Linked DNA regions of Homo sapiens. The protein of the gene in region 2 interacts with the protein of the main gene of each other region in a pairwise test. Each region holds a gene or a part of one and is shown on either strand. Other genes may lie near its edges.

Region 1 (3,500 bases), on a different chromosome or scaffold from region 2:
GTTTCTCCATGTTGGTCAGGCTGGTCTCAAACTCCCGACCTCAGGTGATCCGCCCGCCTCAGCCTCCCAAAGTGCTGGTATTACACCGTGCCCAGCCAAGCTTACATTCTTATCTGTGTTTCTACTGAGTTCAACTGTGATCGTAAATATCAAGATGTTTTCTGTGTATAATTAGTAAGGAATAGTGTCCTTGAACTTTACTACTTCATAGATCCTGCATTTCCTAATATGAGTCATTCAGTATTTTCAGAAAACATTTTCCTTATCTTTTTCTTCTGCTAATAAATTATTGCCCTTCATATTAGGACCACACACAGAACTGTTAGGTTATTTCAAAATCATGATCCTATGGATAAGGAAAACTGTCCAAGTTATACATTCCAACAAAAAGTCCAATCTGGTTAGAAAAAATACCAACAAAGCACCTTTCCCTTCACACTGTTGGGCTCACTTCCACACACGTCACTGCAATAAACCTTCCTATGGTTAGATGTGTGCTGTGATTTTACCAGGTAATTACCAGCATATTCTGCTAGCTACCTCCAAGCAGGACTGTGTCTTATACCTCTGCAGATCCTCACACCTAAACTAGTACCCAGCACACAGCTCAATAAATGTTTGCTGAACTCAAGTCTAATTCATTATTTCACTCCACAAAATTCTTTCAATCTACCAAATATCTTTTGATTATTCACACATGACACACAAGGAATAGACTGTTCATAAACAAGAATGTTTATAAAAATGCTTGCAGATTACAACAAAATCCAATTAAAAAATGGGCAAAGTACTTAGACACTTCTTCAAAGAAGATATAAAAATGGCCAATAAGCGATGAAAAGATGCTTAACATCAGTCATTAGGGAAATGGAAATCCAAATCACAATGAGACATCATCTCACACCCATTAGGATGGCTATTATCAAAATTATAAAAGATAATTACTGGTTAGGATATGGAGAAATTGGAACTCTTATGCACTGTTGATGTAGCCACTACAGAAAACAGTACGGCAGCTCCTCAAAAAGTTAAAAATAGAACTACTATATGATCCAGCAATCCACTCCCAGGCATTACCCAAAGGAAAGGAAATCAGCATGTTGCAGAGGTACCTGCAAACCCACGTTCACTGCAGCACTATTCACAACAGCCAAGATATGGAATCAACCTAAGTGTCCACCAACACATGAACTGGGAAACATGTGGTGCATACACACCACGGAATACTATTTACCCTTACGAAAGAATGAGAGTTTTTCATTTGAGGCAACATGGTTGAGTTTGGAGGACATTAAGTGAAATAAGCCAGGCACAGATAAATATCACATATTCTCGTTCATATGGAAAAGCTAAAAGAGTTGAGCTCATAAAAGTAGACAGCAGAATAGTGGTTATTAGAGCTGCGTAAGGAAAACAGCTATGTAGGAACAGCTAAAGATTGGCTAATGGATATAAAAGTCCCACTACATAAGAGGAAAAAGCTCTAGTGTTCTATAGCACTGTAGGGTGACTATAATAAATAATATTTTATTTTATATTTTCAAATAGCTAGAAGAACAGATTTTAAATGCTCCCAACACAAATAATAAATGTCTGAAGTGATATATATGCTAATTACGTTGATGAACATAACACATGTGTACATTACAAATTGTGCACAGGTATTGACATATCACACTATACTCAATAAATATGTATAATTATGTGTCAACTAAAAATAATAAAAGCAAAAAACAAAAAGTAGATAAACATATTTGCATTGAGAACTTATGTCATCTGATTTCCCTACCTGTGGTTTCCTGCCCATGGCAAGTGTTCAGTTCGGCCAGAAGCTGGTTAAAATCATCCTGATGGGCAATCCAGTTGTCCTGAAAATATCAAAGAAATGAACGAGAGGTAAGCCTGTAGTTTACTTACACTGACTGAGATGATACATTTTGGAATCAAGGAAATCCAGTGGTTAATTAAGAAATTTTAAATGTTCCATCAAAATACTATTTGATAAATTTAAGTGGATTCAAGAAATAATATAAAGTTAAAATGCTCTTTATCCAGGTCAATATTAAAAAGGGGCTTCCTGGAAGCTTAAGGCCTGATTTCAAATGTGAATGACTTATCGATCAAGTCAATATATAGTAAATAATCAACAGGCAACCTGTGTGCTAAATGTTAAAGTAAAACATAATGAAATGACTATTTTTTTCTCACTAGGGGAAATTCCATAGTTGAAAGGACAAGAACCATGCGGGACAAAAAAATGCTCTTCTTTGCTTGGTAGAATTAAAATCTTCTAATGACTTGCATCAACTCCAATTTTACAAAACTCTGAGGAAGGGGAGGAGGAAGAACCTTAAGTCCCCTGAATCGATGAGTTCCCATTTGTAAGGTGGTTACCTAATAAGTTTATTATAAAAAAATGAACCTGGCTTTTATAAGAGAATGAAGATCTCCCAAACCAGTGGGAAGCAGGGTTTCAGTGTACGAATCTGCCTTACTCACATTCTTAGCAATTTTTAAGAATGCTTAAGGTAAAGGAATATGAAATAGGTTTACTGGGCAATGCTTCTTCTAAGAAAATAAGTATATCTGTGTTATCTATCCCTCAACAACTACATTTGAAATCAACTTTATATAAACTCTTTCTTTAGTGGCTAAAAATTTTAGCTCCGCCAATCCACTACTCAGAGATACGGAACTAACCAAAGTAATTCAATTTACCTAAAGTAATTTCCCAGATTCCCTACCAGATTATGTTGGCTGCAAAAACTTAGAAACAAAACTTTTCAGTTTAGATCCTTTCCAAAAGGGAACAATGATACTAAAAATAAAAAGCGCGGTAGGCCACTGACTCTGAGTTATAGTGCCATGCATTCAAAGCGTCAGTGTTCAAGAGGAAACGTGAATAAAAAGAAGTGCTGCACCAATGGTCAGAAGCAGATGAACCAATCAACTTTCAGATTTACAAGACTGAAGCCAATTATGCAAAGACACCCAGGAGGCACACACTGCTGCTCACTTCATTATTGATGGTAGCTCCGAGTCCCAGGTGGTTATTTTTCACTTGAACTTTAATATGATCTGTGGCTCCTTGCTCCTGAGCCCCTAAACCCTGTGGAGATTAAACACAGAGAGTTAGAACATTCCTCTCACTGATACTCAGAAGCAGAGCACTGCTACAAAACTCACAGATGCCTACGGCAGGTGTTCTGAGTTGATGATTCTCTCCATTAAATACTTTCACAAAGCAACATGGGGGAGGACTCTAAGTCCTCTGCATCAATTAGCACTCATCTGTAAGATTTTCCAGGTAAGGAAAGATCAAGTGCAAAGACCCGAAGGTGGGAAAAAACTCAGTGTACTGGGAAACCTCAGAGGCACCCAGGGTGGCTTCTGCAAATTAAGGAATGAAGGAAGTAGGATGACGGAGGGGCTAGATCTCACATAACCTACGGGAGGAATTTGGATTTTATTTTAAAGACAATGGAAAACCACTGGTCTTT
Region 2 (3,957 bases):
AACTCCACCCCAACACCTTCAGGTTCTCATGATGTACCAAATTGAATTCACCTTCTTTCACCTGTCATTTAAGGCCTTTCACAAACTGGTTTCGACTTTCCTGTCCAGTCTCATTTCTGACTATGCCACTTCAAGTTTCCCCAAATCAAGTCAAAGTGGATGGCACAAGATCGGCCCTGAATATATCCAACACTTCAGAAACCTACATCTCATATACATACACACACACACACACACACACACACACACACACACACACACACACACACACATTCTGTCTCTCCGTCTCACCTCTTTGTCCTTGCTTTTGCTGTTCTATCTTCTGGTAACCCTCCCTATCTCCCTTTCCAAAATGACAGTCATCCTTCAAGGCTGATTCATATCTAACATTGCCTCCTAGACACAACTATTCTTCCCTCTGAACTATTTATTTGTTTGATTATTTATTTATTTATTTATTTTTGAGACAGAGTTTCATTCTGTAGCCCAGGGTGGAAAGCAGTGGCACAATCATAGCTCGCTGCAGCCTTGATTTCCCAGGTTCAAGCGATCTTCCTGCCTCAGCCTCCCAAGTAGCTGGGACTACAAGCATGTGATAACATGCCCAGCTGATTTTTTAAAAAATTTTGGTAGAGGCGAGGTCTTGCTATGTTGCCCAGACAGGTCTCAAACTCCTAAACTCAAGCAATCCTCCTGCATAAGCCTACCAAAGTGCTGAGATTACAGGTGTCAGCCACTATGCCTGGCATAAACTTCATTTATTAAAGTTTATTTTGTCTTTAATCTCTCATATAACTTAGTCTTCCTGATATTGCAGCTGTGTGTGCCCCTCTTTTGTACTCCCAGCATTTTGTTCATTACTAAAGGAAGTGTCATGGCTTATTATACTTGATTGTTGATGGGTTTGTCCTCTGATCTTCCCATCTCCACCTCCCCAAACCAAATTTTCAACTCCTTGCTGGAAGGACTTAATTTTTATTCCTCTCTCTATTACCTGCATTCTCATACTTTACATATTGCTGGCACTTAATACAATTTTGTAGCCTTGAAATAAATTGAAATGGACTTAAACAGCAGCATGAAGCACTGAAGGACTTCTTGACAAACGGAAAGGTCAGGGGCTTCTTGCCTGGAAATAGTCCAGTGGAGAAAAACTTCTGTCTGGGAAGAATCGCACAGGATGAAGGGAGGTGCGGGGAAAAAAACTCCCATAGGACTTGGTCATCTCAAGAAGTCTGTAATGCAGCCCACATTAGAGGAGATAACAGGGGATATCCTATTTTCAGAGTTCTCTGGGGGAAACCTCCCTCTAGTTCCTAGGGCTGTGAGGCAGCCTCTCTCAGGCAAGGAGGCTGAGGAGAAATCCCTTTTTATGGCCTTTAAATTGAGGTTCCATATCTATCCCTCAGAGAAGTGTGTCTGTGTCCCTGTTTTTGTCCCTCTCCCTCACCACCCCCCACAACATTCCAGCCTGGGGCAGGGGGAGGCCAGTGGACACAAAGCCCTCTGTGTATGGGGTGGTATGTGTCCCCCCACCCCTCCACCCAGACTATACAATGCCCCTTCTGCTCCCTGCACTCTGCCCCCCTCCCCACCACCTCTCAACTGCACATGCCAGGCTGCAATTGGTTACTGGCTGAGGACAGCCCCCTCATGCTGGGGCCCTAGGGGATTTTAAGCAGGTTCCAGGAACCCCCCGTTCAGTTCCTGGTCCCCCACTTTCTCAACCCCACAGATGCTCCGGGCCCCTGCCCCTGCCCCAGCTATGGCTCCTGGGGCTCCCTCATCCAGCCCCAGCCCTATCCTGGCTGTGCTGCTCTTCTCTTCTTTGGGTAAGTGGAGCCACTCTACTCTGGGAGTCTTGGGACTCAGGTGTCTCTCAGCAATCCCCACAGCCTTTGCTGCACTCCCCACTGCAACCAAAGAAAGAACAAGCAGGAGCAGGAAGGTGACATTATATTCAGAAAGAAAAAATATGCGGCTGGGCATGGTGGCTCATGCCTGTAATCCCAGCACTTTGGGAGGCCAAGGTGGGATAATTATTTGAGCCCCAGGAGTTGGAGACCAGCCTGGACAACATAACCAGACTCCATCTGTAAAATTCAAAAAAAAAAAAAATATATATATATATATATGAAAAGAAAAAAATATGCATTTAGAGGGAGGAAGTAGAGGTTTTATTTTAAAAGAAAGGGTAAAAGAGAGTGTAGCAAGCTTCCCTGAGTGGTGGCCATGGCTGGACCCAGGTTGGAAATAGTAGCATGCCCCCAGAGCCATGCTAACAGCCTGGTGGGAAGCAGTGTTAGATTACATAAAGAAATAGGCTCAAACACCTGGGTTTGGTTCCCACTCGTCCCCTAGCAGTGCAGGAGGTGCCTTAACCTTAGTTTCCCAGAAGGAAAAAGAGAGTGCGATCTAAGTAAGGAGCCCAGGTTTGTGGTCTCAGCTCCTCAGATTTTTTGTCTCTCTATGGCTCCTCACCTGTTGTGTGGGTGAATGGAGTGAGGTTCTATGAGATTCTGGGATCTTATCCCTCTAAAGCTGTCTTCCTTCATAAGCTGACCAGCCCTTTCCTTGCCCCCTGGCAGATGTTGGGTGAGTAAGAGGTCAAAGCAGGATTATTGGAATGGCCCCTTCCCTTCTCTGAACTGCCCTGAATCCTAGTGCAATGAGTGAGCCATAGGCAAGTGGGGGTGGTGGGGAGGACATCAAGGGAAAGGGGGCTGGCCAGAATGCCCAGGGTTCTCTGCTGTCAGCTGCTTGAGCCCTAGACTCTTCTGGGTTGTACTGGGCTATTTGGGGGTACCCTGAGAAAATGTTAAAGATAGAGAGTTGGAGAAGGGCATAGTGAGGGAAATAGGGGGAAGGAATCTTGATGTATAAGGAAGAGGGAGAGTTGTGTCTCAACACTTGTTCCACTCATAGAACCATTGAGCACAGCTGAGAAGGGCAATGGTTGATATTGTAACAGGAGGAATAGAAGTTAGAGCCAGTGAATTATCTCCCTTGTTAAACAAGGGGGATTCCCAAGAAGGTTCTAAGGTGGAAGTTCCAGAAGGTAAGTACATGGTATTGCATGCTGAGGTGAGAGATTCAGGACAGTTGGGGTGGGAGTAGGGGTGGCATGAGCCCCCCAGCGTTGGTCAGACAATGGAACTTTGTTTGGTTGCCACCTCCCCCTCCTGTAGAACAAAAAGGTCTACAGTTGCCCCTCCCTGGGGCCAGCCCACACACATAGTCTCTCTGGAATGACCTTCCTTGTGTGGGTAAGTCTTGGGGATGGCACTGGGCCACAGTGGCCAAGAGGAAGGTGAGGACAGTTGAACCATAGAGGGCTCACATGTAGGGTCATCTGAGCTGTAGGCTTGGGGTGTTGCTCTGCACCCAGCTGAGAGGGGTATGAGGCCCTTCCCTTCCTGACTCTCCAGTCAAGAGCAAGCTGTATGGCAACCAGGGATTCAGCAATGAGGACAGTTGTGCCAGGGAAGAAGACTTATATTTTCTAGTTATCTTCATTTTTTTCTGCAAGAAATCTGAGTTTGCTGTATTGTGAAATCCAATGCAGCTGTTAAAATAAGATTGATATCTATGAATCAACAGGGAAAGCTCCTCCAGATACGTAAGTTCTTAAGCAAAAAGACACTAGAATACAATGCAATATGTATGTGGAAAAAAAAACTCCACAAAACTATTTGTTGTAAGTATGTGTATATCTTGAGTTTATTGAGTTTATACTGAGTTTGATTCATATTAAATGGATAACTTGTTACATCTTGGAAGGGAATACAGGAAAGGAATTTGTTGGGCTAAGTGTCAAAGGAGACTTTTGTTTTATTTCTATTGCTTGAATAGTTTATAAGAAGAGTACAATATGTATTACCTGTATAATTTATAATAAATTTTAAAAATTTAGAACACTGCATCTAAAGGATAGCTTAAAAGTTAGATACTGACCCA

What was found. The genes of interacting proteins can lie anywhere in the genome.
Region 1: the proteins of MPZ (region 2) and PINX1 interact in a two-hybrid assay, tested with the Homo sapiens proteins (one large-scale study listed by IntAct).

What each region holds. Positions count from the first base shown.
Region 1 is NC_000008.11:10,829,876-10,833,375, forward strand, and holds part of PINX1 (PIN2/TERF1-interacting telomerase inhibitor 1), read right to left. Parts: intron 3,110-3,500; coding exon 3,017-3,109; intron 1,869-3,016; coding exon 1,790-1,868; intron 1-1,789. UniProt on the Homo sapiens protein: Microtubule-binding protein essential for faithful chromosome segregation. Mediates TRF1 and TERT accumulation in nucleolus and enhances TRF1 binding to telomeres. Inhibits telomerase activity. May inhibit cell proliferation and act as tumor suppressor.
Region 2 is NC_000001.11:161,307,714-161,311,670, reverse strand, and holds the start of MPZ (myelin protein P0 isoform MPZ precursor), read left to right. Parts: upstream 1-1,702; 5' UTR 1,703-1,735; coding exon of another isoform or gene 1,736-1,765; coding exon 1,766-1,832; intron 1,833-3,957. UniProt on the Homo sapiens protein: Is an adhesion molecule necessary for normal myelination in the peripheral nervous system. It mediates adhesion between adjacent myelin wraps and ultimately drives myelin compaction.